3 separate regions of the Homo sapiens genome follow, and all the other regions are linked to region 3. The links come from fine-mapping of genetic effects on gene expression. A gene starts in region 3. Each other region holds a variant in brackets. All regions are shown on one strand. Distances are between the middles of the regions. Region 1 has its middle 19 kb from the start of MIR9900. Region 2 has its middle 22 kb from the start of CD200R1L-AS1. Region 3 holds the start of CCDC80 (coiled-coil domain containing 80).

Evidence for each region.
Region 1: its variant is fine-mapped to the expression of CCDC80 in nasal epithelium (TOPMed, PIP above 0.99).
Region 2: its variant is fine-mapped to the expression of CCDC80 in nasal epithelium (TOPMed, PIP above 0.99).

Annotation. Positions count from the first base shown.
Region 1 is chr3:112,714,302-112,722,767 of GRCh38, reverse strand. No RefSeq gene overlaps it. Among named protein-coding and RNA genes, the nearest start is that of MIR9900, 19 kb to the left of the region's middle. The variant G/A (reference allele first, on the strand shown) is at 4,177.
Region 2 is chr3:112,776,647-112,785,112 of GRCh38, reverse strand. No RefSeq gene overlaps it. Among named protein-coding and RNA genes, the nearest start is that of CD200R1L-AS1, 22 kb to the left of the region's middle. The variant G/A (reference allele first, on the strand shown) is at 5,003.
Region 3 is chr3:112,636,479-112,644,944 of GRCh38, reverse strand. It overlaps CCDC80 (coiled-coil domain containing 80), which reads left to right and starts at 3,802. Exons shown (of 8, transcript NM_199511.3): 1 at 3,802-4,618; 2 at 5,029-6,917. The coding sequence starts at 5,040.

The DNA of each region.
Region 1 (8,466 bases), 78 kb before region 3:
AAAATGGTTGTTGTGGATACAAGCCACCTTGAAAATAATGACCCAGAATCCAAATTACCGAATTAAAAGGTTGTTGTTGAGGAAAGTTATCTACTCCTATTCCTTGCCCCAGGAGGTAACAATGACAAGCTTCAGGAGACAGCTGAAGAAAGAGTGCTTGAAAATGAAAAACAGAGAGGGGTGTTGGTGTTGGTGGTGATGTGTTGCATGCATGTATGCATTTGTGCATGTGTGTATGCATTTCTGCATGCATAGGAACATGTGTCTGTATGTTTGTGTATGAGGAGAGGGGTTGCTGGATAGGTCTCCCTGCAAAGTTTGGGAAGTCAAAGAGCAGGGCATAAAGTCATTCTATACCTTGGATGAATTTTACTGAGCACGGCTTTAGAATTGCAGCCAGCACCACAGGGCTATATGGAAACAGGGCAGCAAGGCTCAAAGAAAGCAAAGATTTCCCTGCATGCTGCACCCAATTTTCTTCCCTGGTTCGCAATTTGTGGGACTTTGTAATTTTATTGTGGCTCTATAGAACTCCGGATGTCAGTTGGTAGTGTACATTTATTTGCCAACTCTAAGAGGCCACTTGGTTATCAAGGCAACAGACAGACACAAAGGATGCTCGTTGACTTCTGCCTGGGGGAAGAGGTAGAAGTGGCTATAGTTTCCTGAAATCAACTGAAGTCACAAATCTTCCTAGGGAGAAGATGGTTGTCACATTTTAGCCAGTTTTCAGCTACTAGTCAATGTCAGCTGCTGAGCCTGAGACCAGACTTAATGAGCTCTTTAGTAATGCAGAGATAGTGCAGGACAAATATTAGAAAGTATGGGCATTCCCCTTTATTCTCTCCAGGGCTATTGATCCCAAACTGGCTTGGAGAAGAAAAGAAAGAAATATTTATGTGAATTGAGTGGTTAGTATAATACTTTTGAATTTGACTGGATGAGAGTAAGTATCTGAAAGTGACTAGATTAATTTTCTGCCATCATCACAAATAGAAATTTGAAATCACAAGGTTTATGCTGTTATGGAACAAACTGTTTTTGTGCTCCTGAGTTAGGTGGACAGTTGTAATGGGAAAATATCATACCAGTTTTATCAAGATGAAGAAAATAATCCAGGAGAGAAGTCAGGAGGAACAATATCCCAAAAGAACAATGGAATCGAAACCGTTGTCTAGAAGTTAATGTGTACAGAAAGTAACTCAGAGGAAGGAGTAATTGCATCTTCTGAAAAAGTAGCAGCAATTGAGTCTCTCCTCAAACCCACTAACTGCTGGCTGTTTTGCTGATCTCTTTGGGAATTAATAATACCGCAGCCAAAGGAATCTGGAATGTATTGTTGGTGACTTTGAAGTCCAGGCTACAAATCGAAGCATGTGGAGCCTTGGAAGAGGAAAAGGCACCAGGGAAGTGAACCATTGGCCACAGAAATTATTTTAAAGTGTTGTAGGCCATGATTTTTCATGCCAGAACATCTGAGCCTTGGCAAGGATGATGTGCACCCCATGAGAAAAGGAAAACTGTGTTTGATAGAACTTCTAACCTGTTCAAAAGGGATTTAACCTGAAATATGAAAGAGGATGAGGGGAAAAGAAACCATAGACAAAGCTCTAAAATAAATCTGGTGATTAACTGATACCACATTGGAAGAACCATTGCCAAGAAAGTGCTCAGTTATTCTAACAAGAAAATATCAAGGAAGAGAATCAACAAGTAAATTTATGACCTTGTCTTACTATATATTCCAATGCATAGAGAATGGCTAGAAGCTAATAGAACTTGACATTTAACACAGGTGGTCAATGTGATTTCAGGACATCACTGTGAAGACATAAAGAGATGGGGCTTATAATTGTGAAATGCTGTATGAAGGGTGATAATTAAGAGTACTCCAGCTGGTGCAGCCACATCAAAGAGCAAAGTGGCAGCTCTTGGTCAGATTTACTATATGTATGTCAGCAACCCAGCAATTTGGCCTTTGGGCATATATCTCAGGTTCATCATTATGAACTTAGGCAGGTTCATAATTTATTGCAGCCATTTTGGTGGTGATAGGGAATTGAAAGCAATCAGGGTGTCCTTCGGGGGAAAAGTGGATAACCACATGTGGTAGGTGAATGCCAGAAAGCATCATGCAGCAGTTAGAACCAGCAGACTAGAAGTAGACATAGCCCCATGTATGGAGCTAAAAAAGATGGTACTGAGTAAAAATGTAAGAAATAGGATGATATACACGTAATAGAATATCAATTATATGTTCTAAAATACATTCACATGGAAAAATCATGCACATTTTGAAAGTACATTTATTAACACATGAATTCATTAGACATAGGAGAATGGTTTGGACAGGTTGGGGTATGGTGATAAAAAGAACTTGGACAGACTAATATGATAGTATATCATGAACTAAACAGTATGAAGGGAGGAAGAGAGAAAGATAGCAAGGGGAGGGGTGAGAGAGAGAGAGCAAGAGTGAGCGAGAGAGAGAGGGAGAGAGGATGTTTTAGTAGAAAGAAAGAAGCAGTAGGATCTCTATAGAACAAAATGTACTGAATTACACTTGTAGAGAAACCCATGTGTATGTCTTTGTTCCCGACAAAATCCTGTATGATGTGTTATCAATAACTGGAAGGAAGATGTAAACGTAATACTTAAAAACTTTTGATGAGACACAAACCTGGAATAATTTGTTACTATGTTGGGTAGTGAAAATCAGAAATAACATCTTAGGAGTAACCAGATAAATGGTGGCTCCCAAGCCTAGTGCCACTGTCTTTCTCTGATGGTGAGGTGTAAGATATTTTCGTTGGCAAAGAAGAATCTAGTAATAGGCAGCCAGACTGCTAGAGAAAACAGAGCTGTATCTCTGCATTTATGGGCCATTACTGACTCAATTTTTTTTACTGTAATGGGAGACACTCAGGAAGAGCCCCTCTACATACACCATGGGACCTGAGCTGCCCTGATACCCATGATTTTTCCTTCTTATGAAAAACATAAGGAATTAATATTATATCATTATTCCCTGTTTTTCTAAAGTAATGTTATTAATAATCAGCATTTACTAAACTCATATTGTGACTCTAGTACTATTTTAAATTCTTTAAAGAATTTCTTTTAATCACTTTACAATGACTCTATAAAGTACTATCATTTACTAAACTCATATTGTGACTCTAGTACTATTATAAATTTTTTAAAGAATTTATTTTAATCACTTTATAATGACTCTATAAAGTAATACTACCATTATCCCACATTTGTAGGTTTGGAAAGAAACTGAAGAAAAGTTAAGAAATGTGTCCAAGGTCACACAGCAAAAGGTACTAGAACCAAAATTCATACCCAAACTATCTGATTCTAAATCTATTCTTTTAACCATTACACTGTAGCTCTCCAAGAGTTGAGCTGTATATTGCATCAAGGAAAGAGAACATGTAATATTGCCAAATTCACTACTAAAAGGCCTTTTTAGGTTGGAAGGTGCCTGCTTGCTTTTTAGTTTTTGGGGTTTTGTTTTTTTCTTTGTTTTACAATCGGCAAATGATGTCTTTATTTTCTCTGTTATGCACTAGGTTTGCAAGTTTGCACAGTCAGCTTTATTCTTGACTCTCTCAGGCCAAGCCTGCAGGGCTTAACAGTAGTGGAAGATGATCCTTTTATCAGAAGCATTTGTACACCTGAGAACAGGCACTTGGCTAAATCAATCCATTTCTCCAATTAACTCTGTTTTCTTCAGTGCTTGCTTTCTTTTTGTATCTCTAAAAGAAGAAAGAAAAACCTGCTCATAATATTCCAAATTTAACAGAAGAGTAGTGATAGGATGACACTGTGCTATGCAAGGCAGGCCCTCCTGCTGTCAGCCTCAGGTCACTGAGGGAGCAATGCTAGACCTGGGGCCCAGAACCTTTGGAGAAATGAAGAATCCCACTTTCAGGCAGAGGCCAGACATCCATGTGAGTAATTGCTGAGGATGGCTTGGCACTACATTTGATGGATAATAAAGGGCATGTAAAACCTTATGGTTTCTCTTAGTGCCCTGAAATTTCCATTTCATCATAATCCAGAGAACCAAGTCTGATCTTGCCCAGAAAGGAGAGACATTCTTCATGTTGGCAGCCTCACTACACTTCTTCAGATCCCTTGTTTTTAAAAGCTGTACCACATTTCTTC[G/A]TTCAGTCAGGAAATTTCAATCCTTCAGTCTCCTCCTTGCCTCCTCTCCCCTTCTCTTCTCCACTCCATGTCTCTCCCCTCCTGTCTCTGTTCTTTTTGTATTTTGTTTACTTGTATCTGACAAGTATTTTGTGTACTTGTATTTTGTTTACTTATCTGACATCCCTACTACATTTCAAATTTGTTGAGGAAACATATTACATTTTTCTCACCTTTTCCATCCCTCACCTGCCAATTTAGGAGAGTGTTTTGCATATAGCATTTCTCAATAACTATTTGGTGAATTAATGTACATGTGCATGCATCTATTAGTTGTGTTTATTAATTTGTTTCTTACTAGAAACATCTAGGGAAAAGTCATTGTCTCTAGTTATCAGTTGATGTCATTTCATGACTCTGACCTTTTCTTCCACTCTCTGGAAAACGTAACTGATGAGGTCTACAGATGTTCTTTATGTTGGGCTTACACCTCCATACATTTATTTGTAAGTTGAAAATATCATAAGTTGAAATGCATCAGGTTATGTCCTGATAAGCCTATCATAAAGCTGAAAAATGTTAAATCATTTTAAGTTGGGGACCATTTGTATTGTATGAGACTGGAAATAAATTAGCTTACCAAGACTTATCTACAGCTCAGAGTATCTTATTCTCCTCCTTTCTTCTTTTTCCCATCCTTTTTCCCTTTTCTTCATTTAATATTAGCTTTTGTGGTTTTTTTTCAAAAAATAAAATTATTAATTTTAGTGAGACTTAGGCTATCAATAACTTTGATTTATTGGAAGACTATTTTTTCTTTAATCCAATGACCTAGGCTGAATTAGATTGATTTTATTGGCACAAAGATGTAGTGTTGTTGTCTTTTACTTAGGGCAGGGGTTGGGTGGGATGAAGCTAAGTGTGGTTGGAGAAGCTAGCCTTGGCTCCTAGAATTTGATTTGATGCCAGTTGGTAGAAAGTTGAGCATTTCTAGTTCTTTTCAATATGATTATGTAGTAAAGAGAAAAATGTACAAACTAGGCAGCCGAGAAATAATTTTCCTCAAGCCATATAATAAAAAAACTCAAGAAGCATTTTGACTTTAATTTGGCTGCCGTAAAGCAGGGAAAATTAAAGGTTTGTTTGTTTGTTTGTTTGTTTTTTGACAGAGTCACTCCAACACCCAGGCTGGAGTGCAGTGGCTCGATCTCAGCTCGCTGCAACCTCCATCTCCTGGGTTCAAGCGATTCTTGTGCCTCAGTCTCCCTAGTAGCTGGGACTACAGGCACGTGCCATCACACCCGGCTGATTTTTGTATTTTTAGGGAGACGAGGTTTCACCTTGTTGGCCAGGCTGGTCTTGAACTCCTGGCCTCAGGTGATCTGCCCACTTCAGCCTCCCAAAGTGCTAGGAATACAGGCATGAGCCACTGTGCCCAACCTATTTAAAGGTTTTTAATACACCATCAGGAAGCCAACTGCGATTTAGATGATCCTTACAAAAGACATATGTTTTTTTCTGTACAGAAAAAAAATGACCTAACCTGCTTTGAAATACAAAAATGCTAGTGCTTCAAGTGGGATTCTAGAAAATGTCACTTATTAATCAACTTTACAACATGCCTTTACAGTAGGCCGAAATATTTATTTGAAACTATTGATAGTAAATGAATGGCAACTTTACTCTTGCTTCTACCTCTCCTTGTTTTTGACTCTTCATTATTTGTGACATGTATCCAAAGATTCTCCACTTCTCCTCTCCCAAAAATGCAGTTCTAGCTCTCTTGCACTCCTGGCCATACATATTGCAGACGTTCATCTTTCTGGAACGTGATTGGGTCTGGACAGCCTCATGAAAACATTCCTATCATCCCAGCTTTATTCCCATGTTCAGTTTTCCCACAGATGACTGGGAAATGTTGATTGCTATATCATGTTATCTGACAAATATATCTACCCAGGAAACATGGCATCTAGTGATTTATTGCATTAACTTTGTATTCTGGCAAAACTATATAGGGTGATGATATCAGCCATAAAAAAAAATCTTGATAGTCCTGTGTTTTTGGCCAGGCACAGTGGCTCACACCTGTAATCCCAGCACTTTGGGGAGGCCAAGGCAGGCAGATCACCTGAGGTCAGGAGTTCAAGACGAGCCTGGCCAACATGGTGAAACCCCGTCTCTACTAAAAATACAAAAACGAACAAGTTGTGATGGCAGGTGCCTGTAATCCTAGCTACTCGGGAGGCTGAGACAGGAGAATCGCTTGAACCTGGAAGGTGGAGGTTGTAGTAAGCTGAGATCATGCCACTGCACTCCAGCCTGGGAGACAGAGCGAGACTTCCTCTTAAAAAAAAAAAAAAAAAAAAAAAGTGTATGGTTTTGTCCCCAATACTGTTTAGAATATCCTGCATATCTCTGCTAGTTTCTCTGAAGCTTTTAGTATGTTTTTGGAGGTCTATATATCTCAGGCAAATCCAGCGTTGCTCATCTAATCTTCCCAGACTTCCTCTTGTTCCTGGACACACTGCTGGCTTACATTTTCCAACCCTCAAGAAGCTACCTGTGGCCATTTGAGTTCTAGGCAATAAAATTTTAGTAAAAGAAATATGACCACTTTCTAGCTTAACCTCTAAAACCTTGGAGTGATCCTTTAAGCCATTATTCTCAACTAGGGGGCACACACTCATGTATACACACATATACCCTCCCACCCCTCATCACAACTGGCAGATGGTCACTGGCGGCCAGGGATACTGCTAAACATCTTATAATGCATAGAACAGCAATGAGAAATGATCCAGTCCAAAATGTCAATAAAACTGTATTAAAGTTCTTCAGAGTAACAGAACCAATAGGATATACACACATACATATAACTGGATATTTATTGTGAGAATTGGCTCACACAATGATGGAGTCTTAGAAGTCCTACATTTGCCAGCTGGAGACCCGGAAAAACTGATGATATAATTCAGTCTGGGTCTGAAGCCCTGATACTTAGAGGCAGAAAGCCAGAGAACTGAGGGGCAACTGGTAAAAGTCCCAGAGTTGGAAGACCGGAGAACCAGGAGCTCTCATGCCTAAGGGCAGGAGAAGATGGATGTTCCAGCTGAAGAAGAGAGAGAATTTGTCCTTTCTCTATTGTATTATTTAGGCCCTCAATGAGTTGGATGTTGCCACCCTCATTGCTGAGGGCAGATCTTCCTTACTCAGTCTGTTTATTCAAATTCCAATCCCTTCCAGAAATACTCTCATACACATCCCCAGAAATAATATTTTACCAGCTATTTGGGCATCCCTTAACCCAGCCAAATTGACACATAAAATTAACCATACAAATACTGAGGTTGAGAAAGATTGCTTTAAGCTCTTCCTTATTCTTTCTCCAGCCTGGATGCAGAGGGTCCACAAGAGGATTCTGAGAACCTAAAAGTTGGTAGTTACCACCTTTGGTGATTCAGACTAACTCCGAATCCCTACATGATGGCCTTCACTGAATGTCTAATTGGCCTGTGACTTGGGCAAGGAAGAAAACTTGTACTGTGTTAAGTCACTGAGATTTCAGAGTTGTTTATGAAGCTATAGAATAATAATAATAATAAAAAAACTTTTAACTAATACAAGCCCAAATATTGGGCAAATTAATCTCTCTTTATCCTAATTTCCCCATCTATTAAATAGAAATAATAGCACCTACTTCAAAGGTTTTTGTGAGGACTGAATGAGCCTACATTTTTTTTGTTTAAGAGACAGGGCCTTGCTCCGTCACTCAGGCTGGAGTGTAGTGGTACAATCATAGCTCACTGCAGCTTCAACCTCCTGGGTTCAAGTGATCCTACTGCCTTGGCCTCCCAAAGTGCTGGGATTACAAGCATGAGTCACTGCACCCGGCCTGAGTCTGCATTTGTAAAGCACTTAGAACAGTGCCTAGCTAATTGGCTAGTTATTACATTCATTAAAACCTATTTGTCCTGTGACCCATTTCATAATAGACTACTCCATGACAGTTACTTATTTAGTGCCTCTGTGTGTTCAGGCTCTGGAGTTAGCCACATTATATACTATCATCTCATTTAATTACTATGAAATACAATTACTATTGTTGTTTTCATAAAATGATTGATTCCTGGCAGAATTTTCTTAGCTGGCTTAGTGCAAGACAGCGATTTGAATTCATCTTTGACTCCAGCAACAATGCTTTTTGTACTACTCCATTAAGAACTGATAATGGGGCCGGGCGCAGTGGCTCACGCCTGTAATCCCAGCACTTTGGGAGACCGAGGCGGGCGGATCACAAGGTCAGGAGAT
Region 2 (8,466 bases), 140 kb before region 3:
AAGACTTTTCTTACTGTCTTTTGCCACTTTAACATCCTCTAGTGTGTCTGAGGCAATATAGGATAGTGGAATAAATAGCTAGCTATCAACTTGCCAGAGTTCAGATCCCAGCTCCATCACCACGGGCCAGGTGGCTTTGAGCAGATTAGTCAGCTTTTCCAAAGCTCAATCTCCACACCTATAAATACAAAATTTAAAATACTATCTACCTCATAGGGTAGATGTGAAGATTAAGCCAGATCATAAAGGCAAAGTAAGTATTAGAATATTTCAAAGATCTCACTTTAGTTTAATATAGCAGTTATTTTTTACTTTTAGAAGGAATTTTTATCTTGATTATAGAAACCAGTTCAAACAAGTTGACTGAACTCAGACCTTTCTTGAGACATATAAGGCATTAAAATTCATAACTACTTTTGAAAATTAGAATGTACTTTTTATTTCTTTATGAAAACTAATAAAAATACAGTGTTATTCCTTAAGAAATGTTGAGCCTTACCAAATAAGATATAATCCAGTTAATAAACTTGAGATTTTTTCCATCCTGCTTTAGATCTTAGATCCTGGAATGTTGAAGCTAAATAGAACCTTAAAGAACATCTCTCCTGTCAGGTCTTTGGAGCCCAAGCTAAGCCATATCCCCCGTGACCTTCACATATACATCCATGGCCTGAAGCAGCTGAAGATCCACAAAAGAAGTGAAAATAGCCAGGTCCTGCCTTAACTTATGACATTCCACCATTGTGATTTGTTTCTGCCCCACCCTAACTGATCAATTGACTTTGTGACAATATACCGTCCCCACCCTTAAGAAGGTACTTTGTAATGTTATCCCCCCACCCTTAAGAACGTACTTCGTAAGATTCTCCCCACCCTTGAGAATGTACTTTGTAAGAAGATATACCCCCTGCCGGCAAAAAATCGCTCCTAACTCCACTGCCTATCCCAAACCTATAAGAACTAATGATAATCCCACCACCCTTTGCTAACTCTCTTTTCAGACTCAGCCCGCCTGCACCCATGTGATTAAAAAGTTTTATTGCTCGCACAAAGCCTGTTTGGTGGTCTCTTCACATGGATGTGCATGACATTTTCAAGTGTAGCTGTGGAGGGAGTAACATATTCAAGCCTTCAAAAGGAGGGAGTCCCATGAAGACACGATCTCTCATCTCTCTTTTCTGTGTCTCTTTCTTTTTCTCCCTCTCTTTTTCCCTCCCACTCCTTCTCTCTCTCATTATTTTCTCTGACAATTCCACTCTTTCCTGGTAAGAAACAGATTCTGTTGTCCTCCTCCCTACCACCCAGTCCCGTTTTGCATCTGTAAACCCCAAATATCAGAGACAGATCTCAGTCAATTCAGGCAGTTTATTTTGCCAAGGTTAAGGACTCACCTATGACACAGCCTCAGCAGGTGCTGACGGCATGTACCCAAGGTGGTCGGGGCACAGCTTGGTTTTATACATTTGTAGGGAGACAGGAGATATCAATCAATATATGTAAGATATACATTGGTTCATTTCAGCAAGGCGGGACAACTCAAAGCAGGGAGGGGGCTTCTAGGTCATAGATAGATAAGAGACAAATGATTACATTCTTTTGAGTTTCTGATTAGTATTTCCAAAGGAAGCAATCAGATGTGCATTTATCTCAGTGAGTAGAGAGATAACTTTGAGTTCTGTCTGTCCTTTGTCCGCAAGGAATTTCCTTGTGGACAAATTGTGAGGGAGGTATATAGTTTTTTGTTTTTTTTTTTTCTTAGTAGCTATCTTTTTTAGAAATAGAATGAGAGGCAAGTTTGCCCTAAGCAATTTCTAGCTTGACTTTTCACTTTGGCTTAGTGAATTTGGTTTCCCTAGATTTATTTTCCCTTCACACATCCTTCACATTTTAGGTGCCTCAGTCCTGGACTGAATGCTGATGAAGACTCCCACTCAGGTATTGCATCAGGGCAGAAAGGTGTGATGCCTTTCCTTACCCATCATAAGGGTCACCACCAACATTCTTGTAGCAAAAGACAGTTTAACAAGCAAAAAGCATAATACAAATTCTTATGTCACATGGGAACTTTCAGAAATGAAGACCAAAAGACCCAGGGAAAAGTGTCCGTTTTTACACTTAAGTTTGATGAAGAAAGCACAGCTGTGTAGAAACGTGCCTAGGCAAAAAGGTATGATCTAATGTTGATAGACTGAGGGGATAAACCCAGCAAGGGCTGTCTGCTCAGATTCTTTCTGGCCTCTCTCTGTAGCATTCCTTTCCCTGGGGCTGGACCCTCTGGAGTGAGGGTCTTGCAGGATGAAGAGAGAGAGTGACCTTTCTAGTTTTCATAGCTTGCTTTGGGCGAGTGGAGTTCTAGTTTTTATGATCTGCCATGGGGAAGAGGAATTCTGGTTTCTCTGACTCCCTTCAGGGAAGAAAGGGAAGTGGAAGACCAGAGGGCGGGGGAAGGTCAGAGAGACCTTGCTTCTGAGGTCCTTCCAATCTCCTTCAGTTCAAAGTACTTAGCATGCCAAGGCACCATACTTTGCAGTATCATGTTCTAAGCCCCCAAATTGCTGACTGTAGATGAGGAGGGTTTGAATTCCAGCCAATGAGAGAAGGTAAAACTGTTGACATCACTTTATTTTGGTCTACTTATCACTTAGCATTCTGGTTTATTTCTTGCTGATTTTCCCAGGGAGCAAGCCACACGTTGCTAGAATGAGCAGTCATTTTTTGGGAGGACAACACAATCTAATCTTATAAGGAGAAAGGGTATTCCTTTTGAAACCAAAACTTTGACCCTATCTCTTATGGAAACATGACCTTAATAACCTTAATAACAGGACCTACTGGCAGTAAATGGCTCTCTTTGCCATTCTGGAGAGTCAGAATCAGCTTTAGGAGGCCAGAGGGCAGAGATTTATCTGCTTTGTTCATTGCTGTATCCCTTGCATATAAGCACAAAGCAAAAGCTAAATATATATTGGTTGAAATAATAAATTTGTTTATCCTCCAAAGTGTCTATCCTGTCCTGCACCCATGAGAAGAAGGAAATTTTAAATTCATCCTGCAATACATGTGCACACACATACACACATACATACTGTTTGGATCTTTCTTTGCAGGGGTAGAAGGCCAGATGCTTTTAGGTCCAGGCTGTTTTTGGTTCCAAGAGACTACTGGTGAACTGTAGAATAGTACATCATTTGCTTTATGGCTGAAGGTGAGTATATCCAAGGGAGAAGTTGAGGAGGGGAAATCTTGGGGTGAGATGATAGGCTATCTAAATATGTTATCTATCTTAAGGAGCTTGGCAGAAAGGGTGAGTCAGGGTATAGAGCCATTGGGATGGAGCGAGTCAGAGATAAAATAAGAAAATATGTTCTAAGTATAACATGGAAGAGTCAAATTTTGGAATCTCCCAGGCAGGGAGCAGCCATGGCTTTTAGAGGGTGCTCATGACCACAGTGGGTAAGGAGATAGTAAAGACATATATAACCATGTGATTATATATGTATATATATGTAAATGTATGTGTGTGTATATGTATCCACACGTATATAACCACACCAACTTGCTGTCTTTACTCTCTCCTTACCCACTGAGGCCATGAGTACCCTGTAAAAGGGGATAGACTTTACAAAATCTACCAGTCCACAAGATAAGGAATTTGTAATTATTTCTTAAGGTTTGAGTCCATTTGAAGAGTGGTTTGTGTCAAGCAATGAAAAAGCCAAATACGATGTAGTATAAATCAGGATCCAGAGAGGAAAGCTCAGTTCGTGCCAGGTGTCCAATAGAAATAATTTAATACAGGGCACGAGGTACAAAAAGACTGGAAGAGCTGAGAAGCCAAATAGGGCTTCTTAAAGATTAGCAGCTTAAAGATTAGTAACAGCAGGAAGCCACTACCACCCACAGGACTGAAGGGACAAAGAAAGGAGATAGTGTGTACCAGAGCTTGGAAGTCAGAGTCACCTGGAGCTGGATGTGTAACATGTGTAAGATGGCTGCTTGGTGGGAGCTGGGACCATGGAAAAGGGCCCATTGGCATTGGCTGGGATTATGGAGAAGACCATGTCAACACTGGAGATACTGCTGGAAGCAGAGGAAGGGAAGATAAATCCCCTGGCTTCTCCATTCCTCTTATTCCTCAATTTCCTCCTAGTGCTGCCAATGACCATATCTAGCTGGAGGCAGTTGGCAAGGGAGTTTGGAAATTTTATTTATAGGTAAGGGTCCAAAATAAATTTTGGAACAAGCAGGTAAATAACCTGTACAGTGAATTAAATAAAGAGAATTCTCTTGGTCTTTCCCTGAGCACCTGAGGTGGCTGGGACAGCTCCAGCTCTAATGTCCATGCGCAAGGTAGGAAGAAGAGGGAAAGGCTATGCCAATCATTTATGTCTCCATTTACCAGCAAAACTAATTTCTATTTTCCAGAATGTGCCCAGTTGACTTCTATTTAGTTCTCACTGGCCTGGACTGAGCAGCTGAGAAACGGGGAAAAGAATGGTCATAATTGGCTTAGTCCATTTATCCCCATCTGAAGTGGTGCACAATGTTATTATAACCAAAATAAAGGTTTCAGATGGTGAGTAAAAGTGGGAAGTGGAGAGTGAGTAGGTAGCTAAAGTGTCTGCCAAAGAATTAAATGTCTTCTGGACTTTCAATCTTTGCTGACTTACTTTGGACTTTAAAGCTTCTGAGCAGCTTGGTATCCTGGTCCTCACTGAATTTTAACTGTTGGCCCCTCCCTGTTAGATATTTCACTATTTGTTCATAACTTAGTTTGAATCACTAGCACTTGTCCTTAATACTCTGAACTTCCTTCTTTAGTCTATTGTCTCCCAGTTTTGATTACATAAGGACAAATTCAGTATCTACTATGTACCAGGCATTGTTCTAGGAAGGTGAGATACATCAGCGAACAAAACTGGCAAAAAAAATCCTTAACCTCTGTAGAGCTTACATTCTGGTGAACCGAGACAGACAATAAAAAGTAAATAGCATATTAGAA[G/A]GAAGTAAGTGCTATGGAAAAAAACAGAGTAAAGTGGTTGGGATGGGAAGTTTCAGGGTGGAGTGTTCTCAATTTAAAATAGGACACTCAGGGTAGGGCTCTTGGAAGCTGAAGCCTCATCTGACTACTATCTGCATGGTTCTATTTCTCACAGAAAAGGTCAGGCTGGCCTTTCTCATAGTTAGGGAACCTTCCACTTTTCCTGGCTCTAGGGAAAAGCCATGAAAGTTTTCTTGATTCAGTTTTTCTAGCTTTCAAAGAGTAATAATTATGTTATTTGAAGTTAGAATTTATATACTTATTTTGTTCCGGACTGCTGAAAAGAACATGTTAACAGCAAAATCATTCAAGATTTAAGAAAATAAATCTGCTTGCACCAGCAATTTTAAAGTTTGATTAGTTTCCATCAACATATCCCTTATCTAAACATTTCTGAATTAAATAGCTTTTAAAATAGATATGCTACTGTAAAATAAAAATATACTTGAAGAATTTCTAATCATTGACTTCACACTAATTTCATGCTTAACCATGTAATTCTTCTGATTTAAAATTTTGATCTTTTGAACACAGTTTCTTTTTCCCAAGAAGGGGGTGCTATATAAAGATAATTGCTTGGTTGCAAAGACCAAAGTGTTGCTGACCTTTTGCTTGAATATCCATCCCTTTCCTCTTATATTTCACCAGCTTTTAATATATTTCCATCCTTTTCCTCTTATATTTCACCATTAACTCCATCCCTTTCCTCTTATATTTCACCATTAACTCCAAATGAGCCAGGCCTCATCTTTCACCCTATTCCTATCCTAACCAGTAGCCACAATAAGTTCAGAGTGAGATTCCTCAGATACATCCTACCTGCTGTATCCTGAATAAACCAGCTTGACTTGCAGAATTTTAAGCAGGGTAGCCTGAGCTTGTGGGTAATCATTCTTTGAGAAGGTCAGGAGCAATTGTCACTTAAATCCAAAGCCTTACTGTTACCCCAATTTACATTTTCCTCTATTTATGGAATACTACCTCATTTTCATCACTTTCCTAGAACCTATTAGAAATATGTTTTCTTCTATGACCCTAATAGTAACTCAGGAATACTTATATGTTTTGACATAATCTGGAATTTGTGTTTAGAGATTAAAATCTAAGATAATCCAATTCTGTTATATTATTTTAGTGCTGAATTATGTTTTTTAAAATTGTAGACAAAGTCTTCAGTAATCTCTATGCTGATGATTAAAGAAAACATTGCTATTTTCATAGGTCATAGAGAGGATAACTGAGGAATTCATTGGCAAGCTTGTGGGTGTTGCTTTTTACAGTAATTTATTGTGAAATATAGGTGAGTCATTACCATATTACTGCTACAAAACTGCAATAACCTCAAAAAATTTTTATAAAACATTTCAAATTGGGGTAGAAAAAGAACTTCTGAAGAAGAAAAGAGACATATAAATCAAACGTGTCCACGTGTAGTACTATGTGGTGGCGGGGGGATCCTGATATATCTTTAATCCCTCTTGGAATGTATTGAGTGTATAGAATGTAGAATATCTTTGTTTTAGTCTGTGTATTCTTAACATACCACTACCACCTGACTGAGACCAGCGTTTGCTCTAATACTTACTATGCAACCGTAACACTGGCATTGCAGTGATTCATCATATGGAATTGTAGGCAGAGAAAAGCTATTAGCCAGCCCATGCAATAATTGAACCCTTGAAAGAAAGTTTATTGACAGATTACTGTGCCTACTTTGCAAGGCACTGGGGATGCAGAGATGAATAAGCACAGTTTTTATTTTCAAGAAATTTATAGTACAATCCAGGGCAGATATGACTCTTTTTTTCTTTCCAAGCCTGGATGCTCAGTGGACACACTTTTTCACACAGCGATCTAGGAAGCCATCACATTTCCAGCCCCATCTCCATGATCCTCTGGGTTCAGCCATATTATCTTCAGATCCTTGAACCTGTCCTACACTTTAGCCTTTGAGCTATTGAACTTGCCATTCCTTCCTCCAAAATCACTGCCCTGCCCACACCCACAGACCTCTTCTTTGCTTGGTTCACTTCTACTGGTCCTTTGCATCTGGATTTAGCTCTCACTTCCTCTAGGAAGTCTTTTCTGCCCCACTCTGCCTCCCCCTGCCCTCCTAAGTGTTCCCACTTCCCCATCCCAGTATTTATCACATCTTCCTGAAATTGCCTTTTTACTGAATTCTGTCTCTCACTAGGCAATAGTCTCCATGACCATAGGGACAGAGTCTTGTTCACAACTGTATCTCCAGGAAGGATGAGCATGCCTGTTTCATAGTAGACGGTCCATAAATGTTTTTGAGTGAAGAATCTGGCGCAGTTTTTAGAGCTGGGGGTCAAAGTCAGAGACAGATTAGAGGCCAGAGTGATTGGGTCCAGGACTTAGATAGGTGGGCAAGATTGGGTAAACTTCTCTTCTTGGGCCTGTCTATTCTGGGGCAGGGAAAACCTTTGGATGGGTTTAGGGGCCTCACTTGGAGGGCCACAGAGGCTTGAATCCAGCAGGGCATGGTTCCAGAAGGTAGAGAAAAGGACACTCATTAATACCAATTTGACACCAAATTGGAGAGACAAACCCCCAGCAGATGCCCTCCTCTGGATGCCATAGGGTCTAGCTTGAGCCCTGCTGCCTGTACGCAGGAGTGGGAGGAGGAGATGGGGATGGAATATGCTGTAAAGGGAGAAAACATGGGTAAGGGGAAACTGTAACAGAGTTCCTTCTAGACCCAGATCTCAAGCCTTTACTTCTTTTATTCCTTGTTATTTTACTCATCTCAGCACCCCCCACTGCCTGCACACCAGATCCCTGTCCCTAAACCCAGCACCACTGTCACCTTTCAACCTGTCTCTTCCACTCTTCCATCAGATGCTCCTTGTTTAAATCATCCTTGCCTTTGCAACATCAGTCCCTGCCTTCTCTAAGGGGTTCATTGTAAGCATCATTGTTTCTTAGGCTGACCCACTTTCTAACCCTGGTCTTCACAGGACCTTGATCTCTCTCTCTCTTGAGCCAGCTGTTGGCCCAGGCTTCAGGCCCCTCGGATTCCCATCCTGCCACACATCAGACTAATGCTTCAACCGTAGCTTAACCACCCTCCAGCTGAGATGTTTGTATCAGATTTCAACATTTCTTTAATTTTTTTTTTTTTGAGACAGAGTTTTGCTCTTTTTGCCCAGGCTGGAGTGCAATGGTGCCATCTCGGCTCACTGCAACCTCTGCCTCCCCAGTTCAAACAATCATCCTGCCTCAGCCTCCTGAGTAGCTGGGACTACCACCACCACGCCCAGCTAATTTTTTTGTATTTTTAGTAGACGCAGGGCTTCACCATGTTGGCCAGACTGGTCTTGAACTCCTGACCTCGTGATCCGCCCACCCTCACCTCCCAAAGTGCTAGGATTACAGGTGTGAGCCACTGCGCCTGGCCCATT
Region 3 (8,466 bases):
AGCACCTGACATAAGAAGAACATTACAGAAATTGGCTTTGGAACTCTACACACCTATTAATGAAATGTTTGGTGTGGCTTTTGGGGTATTCAATAATAGGGACAGAGCTAAAATGGCTGAAATGACCCAGAATGGCAAAAAATGGGATAGACAGCCAGCCCAAATGATTAGCAGTCACTGTAAACAGTGCCCTGCAACCTCAGGGTCACCCAGGAAGACGCTTCACCGCAGACCAAACAGGCTCAACAGCAAACCTGCAGGCAACGGTTGCTGCTCCAAGTGTGAGAAGTCAGGACACTGGAGAAAGGACTGTCCCAGCCAAGGGAGCCCACCCAGACCCTGTCCTCACTGCAAGCAGGAGGGCCATTGGAAAAGGAATTGCTCTCAGCTCTGAAGGGAGAGGAGGCCACCCAGTGCCGTAATGGCCATAACTGAGACTGAAGGGGCTTGAGGTCCCTGGCAGCTCCCATAAAAGGCATGGTCAACACAATTGAGGAGACTCTTGACGTGGCAGATTAGAATATCCTTGAATTCATTCTTTTGACAGTGTCAAGAGCCTGGACACTGGCTGGGGTCAAGGTCCCACTGGCACCTGGGAAACCCCCAGCTCACTGGTATCACCTGGGCTGCAGCAGCACCCTGCATTAATAGTCATCTTTGGCTTTCTCTCTGACCTGGCAACTTATTTATTTAGTCTGTCCTACACTGAAAATACTGAGAAAGAGAAGAATTCTTTTTTCATTCTGAAGGACACAAATGCAGCCTAAGACTGAACATTTGATTGAGTTCTGCAAATGGGAAGGAAAAACACATAGCCTCCTCAGTGTGAGTATTGTCTGTGCTTCTGCCACAAAGGTGTGATAAAATGGCTCAGCTAATTTTCTTGCTGGGGATACTGATGATCACAGAGCAGGAGAGGTGGTTTCCCTCCAAAACCACACTGAACAGCATGCTGTTATCCCCTCCTTTTCTTTTTATTCTTGTTTCTTCTTAAGCAAATGCTTTTTTATTTTAGCAATAGAATTCAGTTCAGTAACATCTCTGAGTGTTACTTTGTGCAAGAGAACCAACGGCATGTGACAGAAACCCTGGTTTCTCTAGCGTGCCTGTCACAGCGTGTTACCCTGAGCCTTGGTCCCAGGTTGCTGAAGTCTTGGATTAGTGTGGGTCTGACCAGTTAGCACACTCCTTTTTGGATGCCTTCTTACATTCACTCCAGCTTTCATCAAATAACTATCCCCACCCTAGTTTCTCTAAAGCAGTTCTAGTTTGTACATTCTTTCCTTTCCTCCCCACAAATTACTACAAAACAAATGTCAGGTAGTTTCCTATCAATTAATTCCCAAATTAGCATTTCTAAAGTCTACTTTAACATTTTCTTCCTTTCACCTTTTTCTGACTCAACATCAATGTCTTCCTTTCAGATATCACCAACCCCCACCACCCTCCCCCAACCCCTAGCACTAATTGGTTAATTGTTTCTTCAGTTGCAGAAAAATAGAAAGATCTAAATGGAGGACTTACAAAATATGGAGCTCTTAAATAACGGACTTGAAATTGAGAATTATTACAAGCCATTAATCATTATAGATCTCCCCGGAAATGAATGAATGAGAATTTATCATTGCTCTTATTAGGTACGTGCCTCCAATACTTCTTCAGGAGGATTTTCTGAAGCCCCAGGTAAGCGTTTAGGCATTGAGATGAAAACAAGCATGAGAAGCCCCACTTTGCCAGTGTGTGTGTATGTATCTGTGTGTGAGAAGAGACTGGGGGAAGGAGTTGGGTGTGGGGTGGGGACTAACGGCGGCGGTGGAGTGTTAGGTCCTCTCTGGTGTGTGTGTTTAGTGCGCCATCTGGTGACTGAAGCTCACAGAGGGAAGAAAGCCTGAGGTCCTAGGAAGACAGGCACAACCCAGGGTTGGGGTGGCTCCTCATGGTCAATTCGGGGTTGCTAAAGTGGCTGTATTTCAGCTTTACCAGCGCACAGGTGACAAATGTTGTGCACATCATGGAGAGGTTTGTGTAAGTCATGACTTATTCAAGAAAAATAATAAAGGGCTTTAAGGACCTATTGAGAAAAGCAAAAAGTACAGTTACACAATTATCCCAGACAGTAGGACTCTAAAAGTGTAAGTACTCTGGTTGAACAAATAAATGAAACTCTTCTACGAATGTGGGAAATGCAAAAAGGAATTGAAGGAAGGGAAAAAACTGAAGGTATGAGTAGAAAATTAAAGAGAGAGGCAGGATAGCATCACGCTTTGTAGGCTGTTCTAAACCTGGGTTCAAATTTCAGAGCTACTGCTTACCTTTTGTGGGACAATAGGCAATTTATTTAAACTCACCAAGCCTCAGTTTGCTCATCTATAAAATGAGGATCATTCTGTTTACTTTCTAAGGATACTGTGAGGGTTAAATAAAAGAATTCACAAAAATACTAAGCCCAAAGCTTCACATGTAAATGCTCAATAAATGGTAGTTGTTATAAGCAGAGAGAAGAGAAGAGGAAATGAAAAGCCAGAAGGGAGAAAGCTCAGTAAGGATAGTGTAGGACGCCTTAGAAAATTATGAGAAAGGAAGTAACATCTAGGACCCTCCAACTTAGCACAAGGCTAGGTTGATCAACCCAACAGGTGAATACCACGAAGGCTGCAATCTATGACTCCAGTGGACAGAGGGTCTCTGCCTGAAGCCCACTTTTGTTATTATCCTTACAAGTGTCTGAGAGAATGCCACAGCAGGGCTGGCCATCCTTCTTGGTACCCCTGGGACTTCAAGGTGTGGCCGGGCAACTCTATAGTTAACCTCTATACAGGACTTTCTCAGTTCCATGCTCGTAGCTTATGTGAAAAAAGTCAAATGTGACCAGGGCAAGATGGGGCTGATCAAGGCATAACAACTAGGGATGAAGTTTGATCCAGTGAGGGACGCTATTAGCATGACTGAGCTGGCAAGGAGGTTTCTGAGAACCCTGGCTTGTCACTGTTGGTGGCAGTTAATAGTGACATGGAGAGTCAGCTCGCCCAGCATGGCCGGAAGAAATATCCACGTAACCTGAGACCCCTTCCTTCTCCATTGAATCCTTATGGCAGACTCAGGAGGTGGAATCCCAAAGCTGCCTCACTCTCTCTTTCAGAACCTGATAAGTCTACTTCTATGGATTGCCTAAAGCCCTTCAGACATCTAAAGTCTCTGCAGAGGAAAATATTGCACTACACACACACACACAAACACACACACTCGGGACCTCCAAGGGAGCCCTTAGTCTACCATCTGCAGCCAGAGCTTTGAAGCTAGAGATCATAATGCCTGTTCCCTGATGTAACAGTCAACTGCAATCTCGACTTGCAGCCATTGCCTGCATTTCTAACCTTTTACCAGCTTCCTTCCATGCCGAGGAGAAACTAGGACCAAGAACACAGTAATATGATCCCCAATTAGCATAAAATAAAAACAACCTAGTCATGTTTTCCATGGGCTTTTCCAACCTCAAACTAAAAGCACAAAGCAGGGAGAAAGATATAAGAATATACACATGGGACTATAAATACATATATACTGTCTGTGTCAGCACAGCCAAGCACCCTGACCCAAATGAGTATCTGTCTCTAAGAAAAGAATGTAGCCTGATGCAGAAATCTGAGAATTTTCTCCTTCCAAAGTACAGTGTAAGAACAGACTGGAAGAGAAGTTACCCCGATGACTTGGTTTGGAAGGGGTTAAGGCACCAGTCATCCTCTTCTAAAGTGATTTATGATGATGTGTGGAGTTTAAAAACTTTACCCCACCCCAAAGAACAGCCTTCTCACTCCTCACTGAGTCCACTCTGAACGTGCTAAAATGGGAAGGAGGCGGTGTTTTGCTGATCTGTTAAATTCTTAGTGAAGTTTCCTTGATTTCCAGTGGCTGCTGTTGTTTGAGTTTGGTTTGGAGCAAAACTGAGGTAGTCCTAACATTTCTGGGACTGAATCCAGGCAAGAGAAAGAAGAAAAAGAAGAAGAAAAAGAGGAGGAAAAAGGTAGGGAGAAATAAAGGGAGGAGAGAAGCACAGTGAAAGAAAAAAAAAGTCCCTTTTCGACATCACATTCCTGTGTTTTCCCTCAGCCTGGAAAACATATTAATCCCAGTGCTTTTACGCCCGGAAACAAAGAGACTAAGCCAGACTATGGGGGAAAGGGAGATAAGAAGGATCCTGGAACTTTAAAGAGGGAAAGAGTGAGATTCAGAAATCGCCAGGACTGGACTTTAAGGGACGTCCTGTGTCAGCACAAGGGACTGGCACACACAGACACACGAGACCGAGGAGAAACTGCAGACAAATGGAGATACAAAGACTTAGAAGGACAGCTCCTTTCACCTCATCCTACTTGTCCAGAAGGTAAAAAGACACAGCCAGAAAGAAAAGGCATCGGCTCAGCTCTCAGATCAGGACAGGCTGTGGATCTGTGGCGGTACTCTGAAAGCTGGAGCTGCAGCACACCCCTTTTGTATTGCTCACCCTCGGTAAAGAGAGAGAGGGCTGGGAGGAAAAGTAGTTCATCTAGGAAACTGTCCTGGGAACCAAACTTCTGATTTCTTTTGCAACCCTCTGCATTCCATCTCTATGAGCCACCATGTAAGTGTGTAATCTTTTCTGTCTTTGATCTGTTTATTTGTTTCTTTATTGCTTATTTTGAAGGAATGAAATGTGAATGTTGTCATAATTAATATGCTAGTTTGCATTTTCTTTGGAGCATCCAGAGCATTAGTTGAAACAGTACAAGCATGCTGACTGGGAAACTGAATTGGATTTCCTGCTTAATGTAACTGTCTCTGTTAAACACTAACAAATTATAGGGGATTGAAAGTAACAGGATCTCATCCCATTTTCCATCTCCTGACCTCCCTCCTTCTCTCTAACCAACCTTTTCCCCTCCCCTTGGCTGAGATACAGAAAAAGAAAATGACCAGCTCTGTTTCCAGATAAATAATTTTCTTTCTTTTTTCCCCCTCCCCTTTGTTTTATGACCTCCGTGCATCGCAAAGTGGATTACACAATGACATGGAGAATGGGACCCCGTTTCACTATGCTGTTGGCCATGTGGCTAGTGTGTGGATCAGAACCCCACCCCCATGCCACTATTAGAGGCAGCCACGGAGGACGGAAAGTGCCTTTGGTTTCTCCGGACAGCAGTAGGCCAGCTCGGTTTCTGAGGCACACTGGGAGGTCTCGCGGAATTGAGAGATCCACTCTGGAGGAACCAAACCTTCAGCCTCTCCAGAGAAGGAGGAGTGTGCCCGTGTTGAGACTAGCTCGCCCAACAGAGCCGCCAGCCCGCTCGGACATCAATGGGGCCGCCGTGAGACCTGAGCAAAGACCAGCAGCCAGGGGCTCTCCGCGTGAGATGATCAGAGATGAGGGGTCCTCAGCTCGGTCAAGAATGTTGCGTTTCCCTTCGGGGTCCAGCTCTCCCAACATCCTTGCCAGCTTTGCAGGGAAGAACAGAGTATGGGTCATCTCAGCCCCTCATGCCTCGGAAGGCTACTACCGCCTCATGATGAGCCTGCTGAAGGACGATGTGTACTGTGAGCTGGCGGAGAGGCACATCCAACAGATTGTGCTCTTCCACCAGGCAGGTGAGGAAGGAGGCAAGGTGAGAAGGATCACCAGCGAGGGCCAGATCCTGGAGCAGCCCCTGGACCCTAGCCTCATCCCTAAGCTGATGAGCTTCCTGAAGCTGGAGAAGGGCAAGTTTGGCATGGTGCTGCTGAAGAAGACGCTGCAGGTGGAGGAGCGCTATCCATATCCCGTTAGGCTGGAAGCCATGTACGAGGTCATCGACCAAGGCCCCATCCGTAGGATCGAGAAGATCAGGCAGAAGGGCTTTGTCCAGAAATGTAAGGCCTCTGGTGTAGAGGGCCAGGTGGTGGCGGAGGGGAATGACGGTGGAGGGGGAGCAGGAAGGCCAAGCCTGGGCAGCGAGAAGAAGAAAGAGGACCCAAGGAGAGCACAAGTCCCACCAACCAGAGAGAGTCGGGTGAAGGTCCTGAGAAAACTGGCCGCCACTGCACCAGCTTTGCCCCAACCTCCCTCAACCCCCAGAGCCACCACCCTTCCTCCTGCCCCAGCCACAACAGTGACTCGGTCCACGTCCCGGGCGGTAACAGTTGCTGCAAGACCTATGACCACCACTGCCTTTCCCACCACGCAGAGGCCCTGGACCCCCTCACCCTCCCACAGGCCCCCTACAACCACTGAGGTGATCACTGCCAGGAGACCCTCAGTTTCAGAGAATCTTTACCCTCCATCCCGGAAGGATCAGCACAGGGAGAGGCCACAGACAACCAGGAGGCCCAGCAAGGCCACCAGCTTGGAGAGCTTCACAAATGCCCCTCCCACCACCATCTCAGAACCCAGCACAAGGGCTGCTGGCCCAGGCCGTTTCCGGGACAACCGCATGGACAGGCGGGAACATGGCCACCGAGACCCAAATGTGGTGCCAGGTCCTCCCAAGCCAGCAAAGGAGAAACCTCCCAAAAAGAAGGCCCAGGACAAAATTCTTAGTAATGAGTATGAGGAGAAGTATGACCTCAGCCGGCCTACTGCCTCTCAGCTGGAGGACGAGCTGCAGGTGGGGAATGTTCCCCTTAAAAAAGCAAAGGAGTCTAAAAAGCATGAAAAGCTTGAGAAACCAGAGAAGGAGAAGAAAAAAAAGATGAAGAATGAGAACGCAGACAAGTTACTTAAGAGTGAAAAGCAAATGAAGAAGTCTGAGAAAAAGAGCAAGCAAGAGAAAGAGAAGAGCAAGAAGAAAAAAGGAGGTAAAACAGAACAGGATGGCTATCAGAAACCCACCAACAAACACTTCACGCAGAGTCCCAAGAAGTCAGTGGCCGACCTGCTGGGGTCCTTTGAAGGCAAACGAAGACTCCTTGTAAGTAGCCTTCTCCTTGGCATTCTTCTATGGGCTGAGGCAGGGCATGTTAACGTCTGTCTTGTTAGTTTTGTAAAAATCATATTGCTAGATGCCAGACTGTGACTGAACCTGTACTGTGTCAAGAAGCTCAGAAGTCTGGCAAAAGAGGGCAGCAGGCCAGTAGCTCCTTCTGGTTTAGTGACCTATGAAGTTCTGCTCACACAACTCATGGCCCTGTGGTACAAAGTCAGTGGCTGGGGACCCTACACATGAGCCCAGGAGAGCACCTGTAGTCAGCTTCCTCTAGACCTGTAGGGACCCTTCCCCCATTTCTACCACTCTCTTCCAAGGGATATTTCTGGACAAAGCTCTCTTTTACCAAGTCCAAAGGATGAAAAGAAAGATGAAATTCCTAAAAGGGAGTGCATTGACTTCAGTTACATCTTAGTAAAAGGGTTTCTCTCTGTCTGACTTAGGAACTAGAATCATGTCTATGGGACAATAGCAGAGGTCCCCTCTTTCACTAATTAGCTCTATATCAACATTGGAGTGCTCCAAGAGGAAAGTAAGACAGCCTGGGTGGGGAGTGGGTATGACTGAGAGTAGAGAAGAGTCCTTGTTGGTATGACCCTCACGGATCCTTTTAAAATGAGCTAGCAGAAATCTTCTCCCCTTAAAGCCTACCTCTCCCATTTCTATCCAGCTACTAGGAAGAGCCAAAGAGTGGAATGTGGGGAACTGGGTTAATTGCTTCAATTTCCGGTACTCTAGAGATACACCTGAATTTAAAATCTAGATGTCAGTTTCTCCGGGGGCTCTGTAAAATGTGTATGTGCATGTGCCTGTGCATCAGTGTGTGAAAAAGGAGACAAGCTGTCCCTACTTGCCCTTGGTCTGCAGTTCTTTGTGCCACTCGTGTTGAGTAAGGCACAGATTCATCTCAGCAACTCTCTGTTTTGGCCATCACTTGCCACCACCAAATGAGGGCTTCGGGCAGGAGTGAGCCAAATATAAGGGCAGTTTTTATCAGTGATGTGCAAATGGCTCCTTCTCCTCTTCTTGTCTTCTCTTTCCCTCTTTTACTGCCCCTCCAAAATTTCCACCCCTGGATCTTAAGACTAGCTTTTTACTCCAGGCTGTCAAGGAGGAAAAGGATATTGTTACCATTAATTCTGAGTAAAAGATCAATAAATTGATGTTGGGTAATGTGAGTCAGGAATGATTTTCTCAGATGCCTGGGTGAGAGAATCAACTCATGCCATTGAGGGCAGCACCCATCCTCTTGAAGGCACAAGGTAACTGCACACCCTGCATTTCCCCCACCAAAAGAGACAGACACTCTTTTCTCAAGGCATTTTTTAGAGGATCTTTTAGGTTTTCCAAGCTAGCCTAAATTTCGGTTAATAATCTGGGCAGAGGAACTCTGGTGCCCATTTATCGTGTGTTGTTTCAGAAAGTTTAAATGTGCATTTGAAATATTACTCAGAGCAAAGTTCTTTGTGATGTTTATCATGAGTGGGACATATCCCAAATTTTCTTAGCTGTTTACATTGATAGTAGGTCTGTG